4 linked regions of the Homo sapiens genome follow. The protein of the gene in region 1 purifies or fractionates together with the protein of each later gene. This does not show direct contact. Each region holds a gene or a part of one and is shown on either strand. Other genes may lie near its edges.

What was found. Proteins that work in one complex are often made in the same cells at the same time.
Region 2: the proteins of TOR3A (region 1) and TMTC3 purify together in Homo sapiens (co-immunoprecipitation; one large-scale study listed by IntAct). This does not show direct contact.
Region 3: the proteins of TOR3A (region 1) and SCAP purify together in Homo sapiens (co-immunoprecipitation; one large-scale study listed by IntAct). This does not show direct contact.
Region 4: the proteins of TOR3A (region 1) and TLCD3A purify together in Homo sapiens (affinity purification with mass spectrometry; one large-scale study listed by BioGRID and IntAct). This does not show direct contact.

Annotation. Positions count from the first base shown.
Region 1 is NC_000001.11:179,092,063-179,094,396, forward strand, and holds part of TOR3A (torsin-3A precursor), read left to right. Parts: intron 1-2,030; coding exon 2,031-2,155; intron 2,156-2,334.
Region 2 is NC_000012.12:88,169,744-88,173,364, forward strand, and holds part of TMTC3 (protein O-mannosyl-transferase TMTC3), read left to right. Parts: intron 1-2,853; coding exon 2,854-3,002; intron 3,003-3,222; exon of another isoform or gene 3,223-3,346; intron 3,347-3,621. UniProt on the Homo sapiens protein: Transfers mannosyl residues to the hydroxyl group of serine or threonine residues.
Region 3 is NC_000003.12:47,420,384-47,424,004, forward strand, and holds part of SCAP (sterol regulatory element-binding protein cleavage-activating protein), read right to left. Parts: coding exon 3,550-3,621; intron 2,154-3,549; coding exon 2,059-2,153; intron 647-2,058; coding exon 548-646; intron 390-547; coding exon 171-389; intron 1-170. UniProt on the Homo sapiens protein: Escort protein required for cholesterol as well as lipid homeostasis.
Region 4 is NC_000017.11:735,533-739,153, forward strand, and holds part of TLCD3A (TLC domain-containing protein 3A), read left to right. Parts: intron 1-2,313; coding exon 2,314-2,515; intron 2,516-3,621.

The sequences.
Region 1 (2,334 bases):
CAGTGAAAGACACATTAGCACCTCCCCCTACAATGAGGCACCTAGCTAGACAACTTGGCTGTCCGGGCTTAACCTGCGTGGCAGGGAAGGACGCCTGCCCAGCCTTAGCCTCTACGCAATGGTGGAGGCAGGGAGGGAGAGAACCACACAGCTCCCCTCATTTCCCAGCAGCCCCCATGGAGCCTAGTCAACAGGGTGTGGTCACAGGCTAAATGAGCAAAGATGTGAGCTAATATACTGGTAGGTGTCATGGGGGCTTTCAGAGCTGGGTAAGGAGGGAAAGAGATGGAGATACTGGTTCCCCACTCCTTAACCTGCCACCTGCCTTCCCTGTCCTTTACCCTCCCTCATTCTGCTGGACCTGAGGAAAATGCAAGGGAGGCTAGGCCTAGTGGCTCATGCCTGTCATCCCAACACTTTGGGAGACTGAGGTGGGAGAATCACTTGAGCCTAGGAGTTTGAGACCAGCCTAGGGAACATAGTGAGACCTCGTCTCTACAAAAAAATTTTAAAAATAGGGCCGGGCACACCTGTCATCCTAGCACTTTGGGAGGCGGGCAGATCAGCTGAGGTCAGGAGTTTGAGACCAGCCTGGCCAACATGGTGAAACCCTGTCTCTACTAAAAAAATTAGCTGGGCATTGTGGCATGTGCCTGTAATCCCAGCTACTTGGGAGGCTGAGGCAGGAGAATCTCTTGAATCCGGGAGGCAGAGGCTGCTGTGAGCTGAGATCACGCCACTGCACTCCAGCCTGGGCAACAAGAGTGAAACTCTGTCTCAAGAAAAAAAAAAATAGCTGGGTAGGGTGGCATGTACCTGCAGTCTCAGCTACTTAGGAGGCTGAGGTGAGAGGATCAGCTGAGCCTGGGGAGGTGGAGGCTGCAGTGAGCCAAAATCACGCCACTGTACTCCAATCTGGGTGACAGAATGAGACTGTCTCCAAAAAGAGAGAAAGCACGGGGAAGTGCAAGTGCATTGATGTGGAGCTGGGCAAGGACTTGGTTTAAGGAGCTGGTGGAGCTGGCTGAGGCTGCAGCCCAGGGAGGGGAGGAGAGTGCAGTGAGGTGGGGGAGAAGTATGCCTGGGCCGTGGAGGGCGGAGGAAGGCCAAGTCTCCACTACCTCTGTCCCAGCTTCCCTGCTGGTGGCTCTACGGTTGCATCTTCTCTCCTTATCCCCTTTCTCCCTCCTATCTCTAACCCAAATCACTTTCTGTGCTTCAGACCCGTAATTCCAGTTGCCCAGTGATATCACAACCTGAGAGAGATCACAGGCAAGCAAAAAACACTCAAACGTGTGTAAAACCAAACTTTCATCTCCACCTTTCCGTGTTCCACCTCTGTTAAGGGGGACAGCAAGCAGCTTGAGGCTAACGCTTGTTCTTTGATGACCTCCTTTCACTTCTCACATCCATCAGTTACAGGGTTTTTCAATTGTGCCTCCATAACTAATTCTTAAATCCTCCTTTCCATCCCTTCTCCATGATCCATAAGCTCAAGTCCATGCAAATGGCAGACAAAGCCCTCCTCACCTTAGCCAGCCTTTCATGCCTGTGCTCCTCTGGCGCACCCAGGCCTAGACACTTCCCTTCCTTGCCAAGTGTCTGATGATCACTACTTGGTCTTTATTTGCTCAGAAGCCTCATCCTCCCTCTGAAGCCTTCTCCTTAGAACTCAGTCACTCCTCCATTAGCGCTTGCCACACTGTCCTGGAACCGAATACACGGATGCCCCTCAGACCACACAGAAGAACCATATCTTACCATCTTTTCATGCTCCCTGCACTTAGCACAGTCTCAGTAAGTGTGTGTCAAGAGGGAACAAGAGAGAATGGGTGGCAAAACTGGACAGTGTCTTTTCTGTGCAGACCTTTGGGTTGTGAGGTTGTGACAAGGTCTCCTGGAAGAGAGAGAAGGTCCACGCCCCTCAGCCTCTATTCTTCCAGGCACTAATGCATTGGTTTCAGCGGTGAGATAACATATATGGAAGCTAAATATAAACAAATGGGTTAACAAGCTCTTGTCTCTTTCAGTAATCTCAGGGGCGATATAATCAATGAGGTGGTCCTAAAGTTGCTCAAGGCTGGATGGTCCCGGGAAGAAATTACGATGGAACACCTGGAGCCCCACCTCCAGGCGGAGATTGTGGAGACCATAGGTGAGTAACTGACTCAATATGCCTCTGGTGAGAGCCACAGCTGGTGATAATTAATGTGTTTGTTGGAATGTGTGTTTATGAAGCAGACAGGGTACTTGGGAACACAGAGGGCAGACTATAATCATCTCACATTGTCAACCCTGGGTGGGCACAAGAAAAGTGGTAAGAAAGCCTGAGCT
Region 2 (3,621 bases), on another chromosome or scaffold:
ACCTGGGCAAGACAGTGAGATCCCACCTCTAAAAAAAATTTTTAAATTAGCCAGGCATGGTAGTGCATACCTGTAGTCCTAGGTGTTTGGGAGGCTGAGGCAGGAGGATTGCTTGAGCCCAAGAGTTCAAGAATGCAGTAGACTATGATCATGCCACTATACTCTATCCTGGATGACAGACAAGACCCTGTCAGAAAAAAAAAAAAAGGAAGAAGAAAAAAAGAAAGAAAGACTCTGGAGGTGACTGAGTGGTTTGCCGTATGTAGGAAATGAGAAGTAAAGCAGATTTGTCTCGAACTCTTTGCTCTTTCTACTAATATCCTAACATTTAAGGACAGTTTATGCTACTGGAAGAAGGAAATTACAAGAGAGTGATAGTTAACTAGGTTGGCATACATTATTAGAGAGCATATTAGGACCTGTGAATAAGTTAATCATTAGAGACATTTCTTATCCCAGAACCTATAGATTTTTCCTGAGAGATTTTTTTTGTTTTGTATAGTTTATGCATCAGTCTACAATACACTTTTGAGTGAATTTAACACTTAATTCCCTCAAGTGAAATTGCCTTGGGGCGGCCATGAATTAATAGGTATAATTTTTTTTTCAATGAACTACATACATATTCAGGAACTTTTCTTTATCTGTTTCACATTTTTTGCTGATTATTTTTGTCAAGCATCTCTGGGAAATGGAAAGTGAATTCTATGCACTCTTAGTTATTCTTACCTTTTTGATTTAAAAAAACTGAAGTGTCAGACCTATAAATTGGTATGATGGTGACCAGTTTGATGGTAGTGATTTTCCTCAGATTCAGTGTTGCCTTATTACAAATCATTAATGTGTGAACATTTGTGGAGAGTATTCTTTTCAATGTATACACCTCTATATTTCACAAATTAAGTCAAATAGAAAAAAAGGACATTCTTTCACCTTAGCCCATTAGAAGAGTCTCAAACTTGTGAAGCTAAAGGTTTAACTTGTTTATTCAATTAAGTACTGTAAAACAAATCGGGGTAACAAAATATGGAAGCAGATGTCCATAGAAACAGATTTCCTAATAACGACCAAACTTATTTCCTTCACAAGCTATTTATGTGCTAGTTTTTTATGGGTGTATAATGTGGAAACCACATGTCATCCCATTTTCAAAATGGTAAGAAATCTAAACATTTTTATGATGTTTCATTTCAATGTTCAGTGTTATATTAATAATTTTAGAAATTCTTGTAGAATGAAAGACTGTTGATTTAAAGGGGGGCAGTTTTATTTTTATGCATACACTAAGCTTCTAGTTAAATACATTTAACCTTTCAGGATGTTATGTGAAGTAATGCTAAGGTACAGTAGTCTGCTATCTTGTCTGAACGACACCTGATTTCATTCCCTCAGTTTCCAATATCATGTGGTTTCTTAAAGTAGTAAAGTTGTAAAAACTGACATGTTTAGCTTTTTTTTAATCAGCATTTGTGGTTTTGTTTTGTTGAAAAACCTATTAGCATATTTCATTATCATCTTATTTTTACCACACGCACATAAGTTAGATGTGTAAAATTTTTATTTATTTAATTTGTATTCCTCCTAACTGAAGTTTTATGCCTTTTGACCAACCTCTCCCCAACCTTCTCCCTCCAACCCTGGTGACCACCATGTACTGTACTTCTGTGAGTTCAACTTTTACAAATTCTACATACAAGTGAGATCATGCGTTGTTTGTCTTTCTGTGGCTGGCTTATTTCTCTTAACATGGTGTCCTCCGGGTTTATCCATGTCAGAAATGACAGGATTTCCTTCTGTTTTAAGGCTAAATAGTATTCTAAAGTGTATATGTACCACATTTTTTTCATCCAGTAATCTGTTGATGGATACTTAGGTTGTTCCCATATCTTGGCTATTGTAAATTGAATAATGCTGCAATGAACAGGGGAGGTCAGATCTCTCTTCAACATACTGACTTCATTTCCTTTGGATCTATACCCAGTAGTGAGGATGCTGGGTCACATGGTAGTTCTATTTTTAATTTTTTGAGAAGCCTTCCTACTGTTTGCTTAATGGCAATGCTAATTTACATCCCACCAACAGTGTGCAAGTGTTTCCTTTACGTTCTTGCCAACATTTGTTATCTTTTGACTTTTTGATAATAGCCATTCTTACAGGTGTGCGATGACATCTCATTGTGGTTTTAATTTTCACTTCCTTAATGATAGTGATGTTGAACATTTATATACTTGATGGCCATTGGCATGTTGTCTTCTGAGGAATATCTATTTAGCTACTTTGCCCATTTTTTAAATTGGGTTGTTTTCTTATGATTGTTTGAGTGTGTTATTTTAGATAGAATTTCAAAAAGTACTTCCACTATTTAACTGGATGAACCTTTATTGTTTAATTTTTGCTTAAAGATGTGAATATTTACATTTATTAAAGTTTTTATATTTTACTATGCAAGCATATTCTTTACAGAAAACCAGTGAGATATAGCTAATTATGCTTCTCAAATTTAAAATGCTGTAATGGTTTAGATTTTAATTTCAAGGAGTAATCACTCCCAAACACACCTAGAAATCTTGTTTTCAAAGTTCATAGATATCCTCTAATTTTAACTTTTAGAATTCAAGATTTCCATTTCACCTTGCTTACGTACATCCTGATGTTTGTTAATGTCTAAGTTGCCTTCTTTATGTTTAAATTAATATTCTTCACAGTATTATTAAAAATAGTTTAGCAGTACACTATCCAGGTTAAATGATAAAATATTTGGATTCAAGTATCAGATGCCCATATATTTCTTAATTTATTATAAATTATTTTAAATTTATTATAAATTATTAAATCTTCTTTTTTTTTTTGTAGGCGCTTTGTTTAATGGCATTACCATTTATTCCTGCATCGAACCTTTTTTTTCCAGTTGGATTTGTTGTTGCCGAGCGAGTATTATATGTTCCCAGCATGGGGTTCTGTATTTTGGTAGCCCATGGATGGCAGAAAATATCAACAAAAAGGTGAATTTAAATGTCAGTTCATGTAATGCTTACTATGGAATTAAGTGTGACACATTTTAAAATTTAAATATTTAGTTCAGTTTTCTAAGTCATGCTTTTGTATCTTTTGGTTTTTCATCTCCATAGTCTCCTCATTTGTCTTGTAAGTCAAGTTAGGAAAGCTCCATGGCACCTACTTATTCTGTGTTCTTCCCTATATTTATGTAATTTGATTTTACAGCCTGAGACAGAACAAACTTTGAGTCAGATCCAAATGAAAACAAGGATGTTACTGAGAATAAAGTCTCAAATGACCATTGCCACTTCCATATTCAGTGAACTAAGATAATAGTCATCCTACTTAAGTGAGTCATATTGAGTTAATATATATAAAATGCATATAGTAAGCAATCTGTAATTTCTTGCTATCATCACTATCTTCATTATAATCTTTGTATCCTAGTTGCCTCAAACTAACAGTTAAGGAACAGCATAGTCACACTGTATATATGCTTAGGAACTATAATTGTTATAGGTATTATCTCATTGTATACTTATGCTGTGGCACTAAAATTATCAAATCAAGCAAATTGTTAAAGGTCAAGTAATACTAATGTAATAATATTGAGTTTGCAACTTG
Region 3 (3,621 bases), on another chromosome or scaffold:
AGGGTCTGGGCAGGGAGGACACAACGGGCAACTCCCCAGAGCCAGGCTTCCAGGGGCCACCAGGGCCTGAGGAATACCCTTTGCCACTCTAAGGCCAAGTGCAGCACCACAAGGGGCCTGGAGCACCGGCCCTCCAGAAGAGGGCAGGGCAGGGCAGGGGTGGCAGGTACCATGATGAGGCGCTGTGCCAGGCGGGTGCGGGCCAGGAAGTAGACAACACGCAGCCTCTTGGGGAGCCGCAGGTTTCGGAAGGAAGACGGCTGCAACGTGATGGTGTGGGGTGTGGACGGCCTCACAGCCAGCTGCCGCTCGTAGCGCGTTGGCTGTCCCACTGGCTTGGCTGAGGGCAGGCAGGCCTCAGGGGGCAGTCGCTTGTTCAGGTCTGCTAGCTGTTGGGGGCACAGTGGTCAGGGCCTGAGTCCACCATCCAGAGGCTGCTCGCACAGGACCGCTGTCCTGCCCGAGGTCTACACCCTTCTCACCCAGGACTCCCTCAGTACAGCCAGGGCTGAGGAGGCGGGCAGGGCAGGGCTCAGCCCACTCCTACCTCCATCCGGCGAATGTCAATGGACAGGACAGTGGTGAAAAACAGCATCTGAAGGAAGAAGTCAGACACCAGCCCCACGACAGCAAAGAGACAGAACTCCTGGAATCAGAGCACATGGGGATGGGGGGGTGCCGTGACCTCACTGTCCCAGCCCAAGAGGAGCAGTACCCGGACTGCAGCCACCTCATAACCGGCAGGGCAGCAGCAGGCAGGGCACAGCAGAGATGAGAGATGCTGGTTGGTCCTCAGCTCACATACCAGCAGCAGCTCACCCCGTCTCCACCAGGGGGCAGAAGAAACCCTCACACTTTCTTCAGAAAGGGCTGAAAGGGAAGGGGAAGTACCTTCCCTGAATCTTCCGGTCCCTCTAGAGGGGACTGAAGGCCTGATCCAACCCGGAAACCTCTAAGCCCCACCAGCCTGCTCCCCAAAAAGTCCTTCCCCACTGAGCCCCCGCCCTGCTCATGCATCACCAACCCAGCTAGAGCCCAGGCCTGATTCAGGGGCTCTCAGAAAGGTTCCCAGCCAGCAACTGCCCCGGAACAATGAAGAGAGAGAGAGAGGGATTAATTCTCTAAAACTGAAAAAGGGTGAGCTCTCTGCTCCCCAAGCTCTGTCAGCAGACAAAATTTTCTGAGATGTCGGTGTTGAGACCTCTAGCACATCACCACAGTGCTACTCCGATCTGGGGTAAGACCATGGAGTGCAGATAGTGGCACAGTGGTTGTCTCAGCTCTAACGTCCCAAGACTGTACCCTATCCTGCAGATACTACTGTTTTTCCAGGAGAAGCAGCCCACAGCCCATCTGTTCTCTGCTCACCCCCATCCCTCAGCTGGCCTGCCAGCCCTGGGGGAAAGACGGGCGAGAAAAGATGGCATCCTCCCCTTCCTGCAACTCCTTCTGGAATGGCTGGCATCAGTCTGGGGTTCCAGCTCAGTGCAGGGCCACCTCCACCTCTGCTCACAGCCCACAGCTGAGTGAGGGCACTTTGCCAAGAGCAGGGTCACTCTGGGCAATGGGTGGTGGCCCTCCCACTGGTCAGGCCAGGCAAGGCCATGCGTCTGGCGACTGCGGCACAGGCCAGGGCCAAGGGAGGAGACCGGAGGAAGGGTCTAGGAACCCCACGGTGCTTCTCCCTCAAAAATGGGAAACAGGTGTGACAAACTGCACAGCCAGTCCCCAGCTCCTGCCATGCCCTTGCAGCCTCCTCCTGCCACTTGGCTGAAAGGGAAGCAGGCAGGGAGGGGTAGGAAGACAGGGTCAAGGGCAGAGTCTGCCTGGCTAGGTGCTCAATCTGGGAACCCAGCCAGGGTTTGCTGAGCACTTCTGAGCCAGGCATGCCAGGGGCCATCTGGGTGCTGTAGTGATCTGCTTGCCAGGCAAAGAGGTCCCACCTCAGAAGCAAGGATGCCTGTGCTGAAGAGGGGAGCACCCTGCCCATGGCTGCACAGCTGGGGAGCACAGCAGTTGCTTCCATGCTCATCCAGGTGGCAGGCCTTGGGGCCTTACCTGGATGGCGGGCACTAGGGTGAAGTAGCCGATGAGGATGATGCCCAGCTCCGTGGCCATGTTCTTCATGATGGACCAGCTCTCGCTGCTTAGGCCTGCAGAGGGCAGCAACAGGGCACAGGGCAACACATGGCCACTCTGCGACATGACTCACACAACCTCATGGGCCTCGGAGTGGCAGAGGCATGGCAAGGCCCCCCAGCCCTTTGAAGGAGCCATTCCACCAAAGCACCCCAACCCTCAGGGTCCTGCTAATGCCCAGACTTTAAGGGGCCATCACCACCACACAGCTGCTACGGGGAACGGGTGTTCACAGCCTGGAGGGTGCAGAGGAGAGCTATAATCATCAAAAGAGGGAAGAAGCAGAGTGTGGAGATGAGAAAATCCACAAGGAAAGCCAAGTGCCACCCACAACAACCACATCCAACCTCCGCATGTGGTTCTTGTCTGGTCTGCACGGGCCAGCATGACAGTGTGCCCATCAACCACATGGCAGAAGCACTCGGCGGGTAGAGGACCTGGCTGCGTTCTTCCTCAAGCCCCTTCCTGTAGTGAGCCCTGATCCCACGCTATCACACTGTCGCATGTCTAAGGCTCTGTGCTCTTACTGGGTAAGGACAATTTCGCCCCATCTCTTCCTAACTCCATATCCAGCACAGGGCCTGGCTTATCACAGAGGCTCACAGAGGTCTGGATGAATGGACGGCTGCCTACAGCCCCATTCCTCACAGACATGGGGTGACGAGGAAGAAGAGGCTCAAGTGACCAGGCCTCCAAGGCCAGGCTCTCCCTTTTCTCATTTTCCCTAGAACCCCAGATCCCCAGTTTCTACCAGCAGGGCCAGAGGGAGCTTTTCTGGCAGCCGTGAAGGCAGCGTCTCTGAAATGGCCAGCCCCCGGGGCTTGGGCCTAGTGTGCTGGAGTGAGGCAGTAAGAGAAAATACTAGGCGCTAAACTCCCCAGACAGAAAGCCACCACCAAACACAAGCCCCACCCACACTGAAGTGCAGTGGTGTGATCACGGCTCACTGCAGCTTTGACCTCCCAGGCTCAAGCAATCCTCCCACCTCAGCCTCTTGAGTAGGTGGGACCACAGGTGCATGCCAATATGCCCTGCTAATTTTTCTATCTTTTGTAGACATGGGGTTTCACCATGTTGCCCAGGCTGGTCTTGAACTCCTGGGCTCAAGTGATCCACCTGCCTCAGCCTCCCAAAGTGCTGGGATTACAGGTGTGAGCCATGGCACCCAGCCTGGTTTACTTTCTTACTGACACATGAACCAGGACGAAGTACAGTCCAATGGCCCCATGGCTCCCCAGGGCACACACTCAAGAGCTGCCAGGGCCCAGTGGCCCACTGCATATTATGCCGGAGGCAAGAGCAAGGGACATTTCAAGGGCTCTGTTTGCTCACAGAGCGTTAACAGCAAGAGGAACAGGCCCCATTCCAGCCCCTCCTGCAGCCCTCTGCCCAACTCTCCCACTGCGTTACCTTGGGCGATCCGCAGCTTCACCTCCAGGTCTACCGGGGTTGAGACCACAGACTTGGTGAGCACCAACACAT
Region 4 (3,621 bases), on another chromosome or scaffold:
CCTTCAAGGGGAGAGGCCAGTTATATTTCAGCTAAATTTTAGTAGCTGTTTATAGGTATTTTACTTGAAATTGCTTGAAGAAAGCACCTGAGACCATAGATGGGCATTGGAATAAGTATGGCATCTTTTTGGCCAAAAGAAACCTAGCTAGGTCGGGTGCGGTGGCTCCTGCCTGTAATCCCAACACTTTGGGAGGCCGAGGTGGGCGGATCACTTGAGGTCAGGAGCTTGAGACCAGTCTGGCCAACATGGTGAAACCCCCATCGCTACTTAAAAAGAAAAAAAAAAAGAAAATAGCCGGACGTGGCGGCAGGTACCTGTAATCCCAGCTACTCGGGAGGCTGCGGCAGGAGAATCGTTTGAACCCACGAGTCAGAGGTTGCAGTGAGCTGAGATCGCGCCACTACATCCAGCCTGGGCGACAGAGCAAGATTTTGTCTCAAAAACCAAAACCAAAAAAAAAAAAAAAAAAAAGGAACCTGGCTAATGAATTCACCTACAAGTGTGTTATACTTGCCATTACTTGCTTGCCTTATTTGTTTATTCATTATTTACGCCGTGGTAAGTGTGGAGTTGCTCAAGAGCACAAATTCAGATGGCGCCTCCGTAGACTGTATTTCCAGTGTTGCAGTTCAGCGGACTGGCTGCGTCCGAAATCAGAGACAAAGTTAATACAGATTTCAGGGCCCTCGGCTTACAATTTAGAATCTCTGGGGACTGGAGCGCTTAACAAGCACTGCAGGTGATTCTGATGTTCAGGTAGTTTGAGAACCATAAAACGAAATGGTTTTCTACCTAATACGTGGATGCGCATCAAACGTTTGCTGACCATGTGAATGGAATCCTCAAATAGTACATGATTTCAATTTAGATGTTTCTTCACAGAAAACATCTGTGGAATGCTTATCACTGGGAACCACATTGTATGAATTGTAGAGGCTTCCCTTCTAATCTGCTCTAGGACGGTGATCAACTATGATTTCCATTCAGCAAATACTGATTCAGCCCCTTTGGATAAGTAAATGGGAAAACTGTCTTTTGACCTAGCCTCTCTCCTGGTACCTAACCGCTGTAATGTGGCCCTTGAGCTCCAGGCTCATTTCCAGACCTGCTTTTTTTTGTTGTGTTTTGTGTGTTTTTTGAGACGGAGTCTCACTCTTTTGCCCAGGCTGGAGTGCAGTGGCGCGATCTCGGCTCACTGCAACCTCTGCCTCCCAGATTCAATCGATTCTCCTGCCTCAGCCTCCCAAGTAGCTGGGAGTACAGGTGCACACCACCATGCCCAGCTAATTTTTGTATTTTTAGTAGAAACGGGGTTTCACAATGTTGATAAGGCGAGTATCGAACTGCTGACCTTGTGATTCACCTGCCTTGGCCTCCCAAAGTGCTGGGATTACAGGTGTGAGCCACCACGCCCAGCCTCCAGACCTGTTTTTCTTAATGGAATTGAGATTATCTCTAGAATTGCTTTTTGGGTTTTTTTGTTTTTGTTTTTTTTAGATGGAATCTCACTCTGTCGCCCAGGCTGGAGTGCAGTGGCGCAATATCGGCTCACTGCAACCTCCGCCTCCCGGGTTCAAGTGATTCTCCTGCCTCAGCCTCCCAAGTAGCTGGGACTACAGGTGTGCGCCACCACATCTGACTAATTTTTGTATTTTTAGTAGAGACGGGGTTTCGCCATGTTGGCCAGGCTGATCTTGAACTCCTGACCTCAAGTGATCCACCCGCCTCAGCCTCCCAAAGTGCTGAGATTACAGGTGTGAGCCACCGAACCCGGCCAGCTCTAGAATTGTAAAGAAAATGGCCAGGGTTGCCTCCCAGAAACTCCATAGAGTGGGGTTGCATGCAGACAAGAGAAAACTCACAGGTTCCAGGATTTAAGTTAGTAAAACCCCCAACTGTTGAGCAGCTAAGGAGTTAAACTAGAAATGTTGGATTTGTGATTTGGGACACTTTCCAAACCAGCTTCTTGGTGGGGCCGTTGAATCATTTGTATATCTATCTATATCAAAATCAGTTTTATCACAAAATGCCAGAACATCTACTACAAATTAGTAGCTAAGTCAGGCAAGTAGTGACAGCAAGCTGCTTCAACAGGCAGGGCTGAGTGAATGCCTGCTTTTTGCCTTTGACACTCACGAATTGGCCCTGAAACTGAGAGCAAGTGGTCTACTCTCCCTGTTTATCAGTTTCAACATCTTTATTGTAAAGTATTTGGAATAATAATAGCTGATCAAGCACCAAGCTTGGCTGTGAGCCTTCATAATGGATATCCACAATGATTTCACGGGCCATTCATATGCTTTCTTTCAGGCACTGGCTTGCCCGGGAATATGTGTGGTTTCTGATTCCATACATGATCTATGACTCGTACGCCATGTACCTCTGTGAATGGTGCCGAACCAGAGACCAGAACCGTGCGCCCTCCCTCACTCTTCGAAACTTCCTAAGTCGAAACCGCCTCATGATCACACATCATGCGGTCATTCTCTTTGTCCTTGTGCCAGTCGCACAGGTATGGCCTTCCAGGACAGCAGACCAGCAGCTGGGTTGAGCTGGGTGTCTTTTTTTTTTTTTTTTTCTGAGACAGTCTCACTCTGCCGCCCCAGCTGGAGTGCAGTGGTGTGATCTCAGCTCACTGCAACCTCCGCCTCCCGGGTTCAAGCGATTCTCCTGCCTCAGCCTCCTGAGTAGCTGGGATTGCAGGTGCCCACCACCACGCCCGGCTAATGTTTGTATTTTTAGTAGAGATGGGGTTTTGCCATGTTGGCCAGGCTGATTTCAAACTCCTGAACTCAAGTGATCCGCCCGCCTCGGCCTCCCAAAGTTCTGGGATTACAGGCATGAGCCACTGCGCCCGGCCTGAGCTGGATGTCTTGACCGTTACTTAGGAGTCGGGATTGCCCCTCTTTTCTTTGCCACTCATAGGCACCCATTCTCCTTGTGCCTGCTGCTTCAGAGCCACCTCCCCCAGGTGAATAGTGGAGGAACACCATTACACATGAAACGTTCATGATCCTCCTTACCAACATCAACATCAACATACTTTTTCTTTTTTGAGACAGGGTTTCACTCTGTCACCCCGGGTGGAGTGCAGTTGTTGGATCACAGCTCACTGTAGCCTCAAACTACTGGCCTCAAGTGATCCTCCTGCCTCTGCTTCCCAGGAAGCTGGGAACACAGGCACACACTACAACGTCCAGCTAATTCCTGTAATTTTTGTAGAGTTTCTCCATGTTGCCCAGGCTGGTCTCAAACTCTTGGACTCAAGTGATCCTCCTGCCTAGGCCTCCCAAAGTGCTGGGATTACAGGCGCGAGCCACTGCACCCGGCCCCAACATTCTTTTTAACAAACCCCCAGCGCTCTGTGATTCCCTAGCGTTTGTCAGAGGTTCTATCCTTAGTTCAATACAAGATAAAAACAATATAAAATACAAATATAATACAAAGCAACATAACAGTGCCAGAGAGCACTGTGTGGATTATTCTTAGGTCACAAAACACAGATTCTCAAAGCAAATAGCCTCCTACTTTCTCCCCAGATCCATTTCCCCATAAAAGCCCACCCAACAAAGAAAAGCAATGGGAAAGCTGAGGGGAAATTCCTCACTCTTGAGTGCC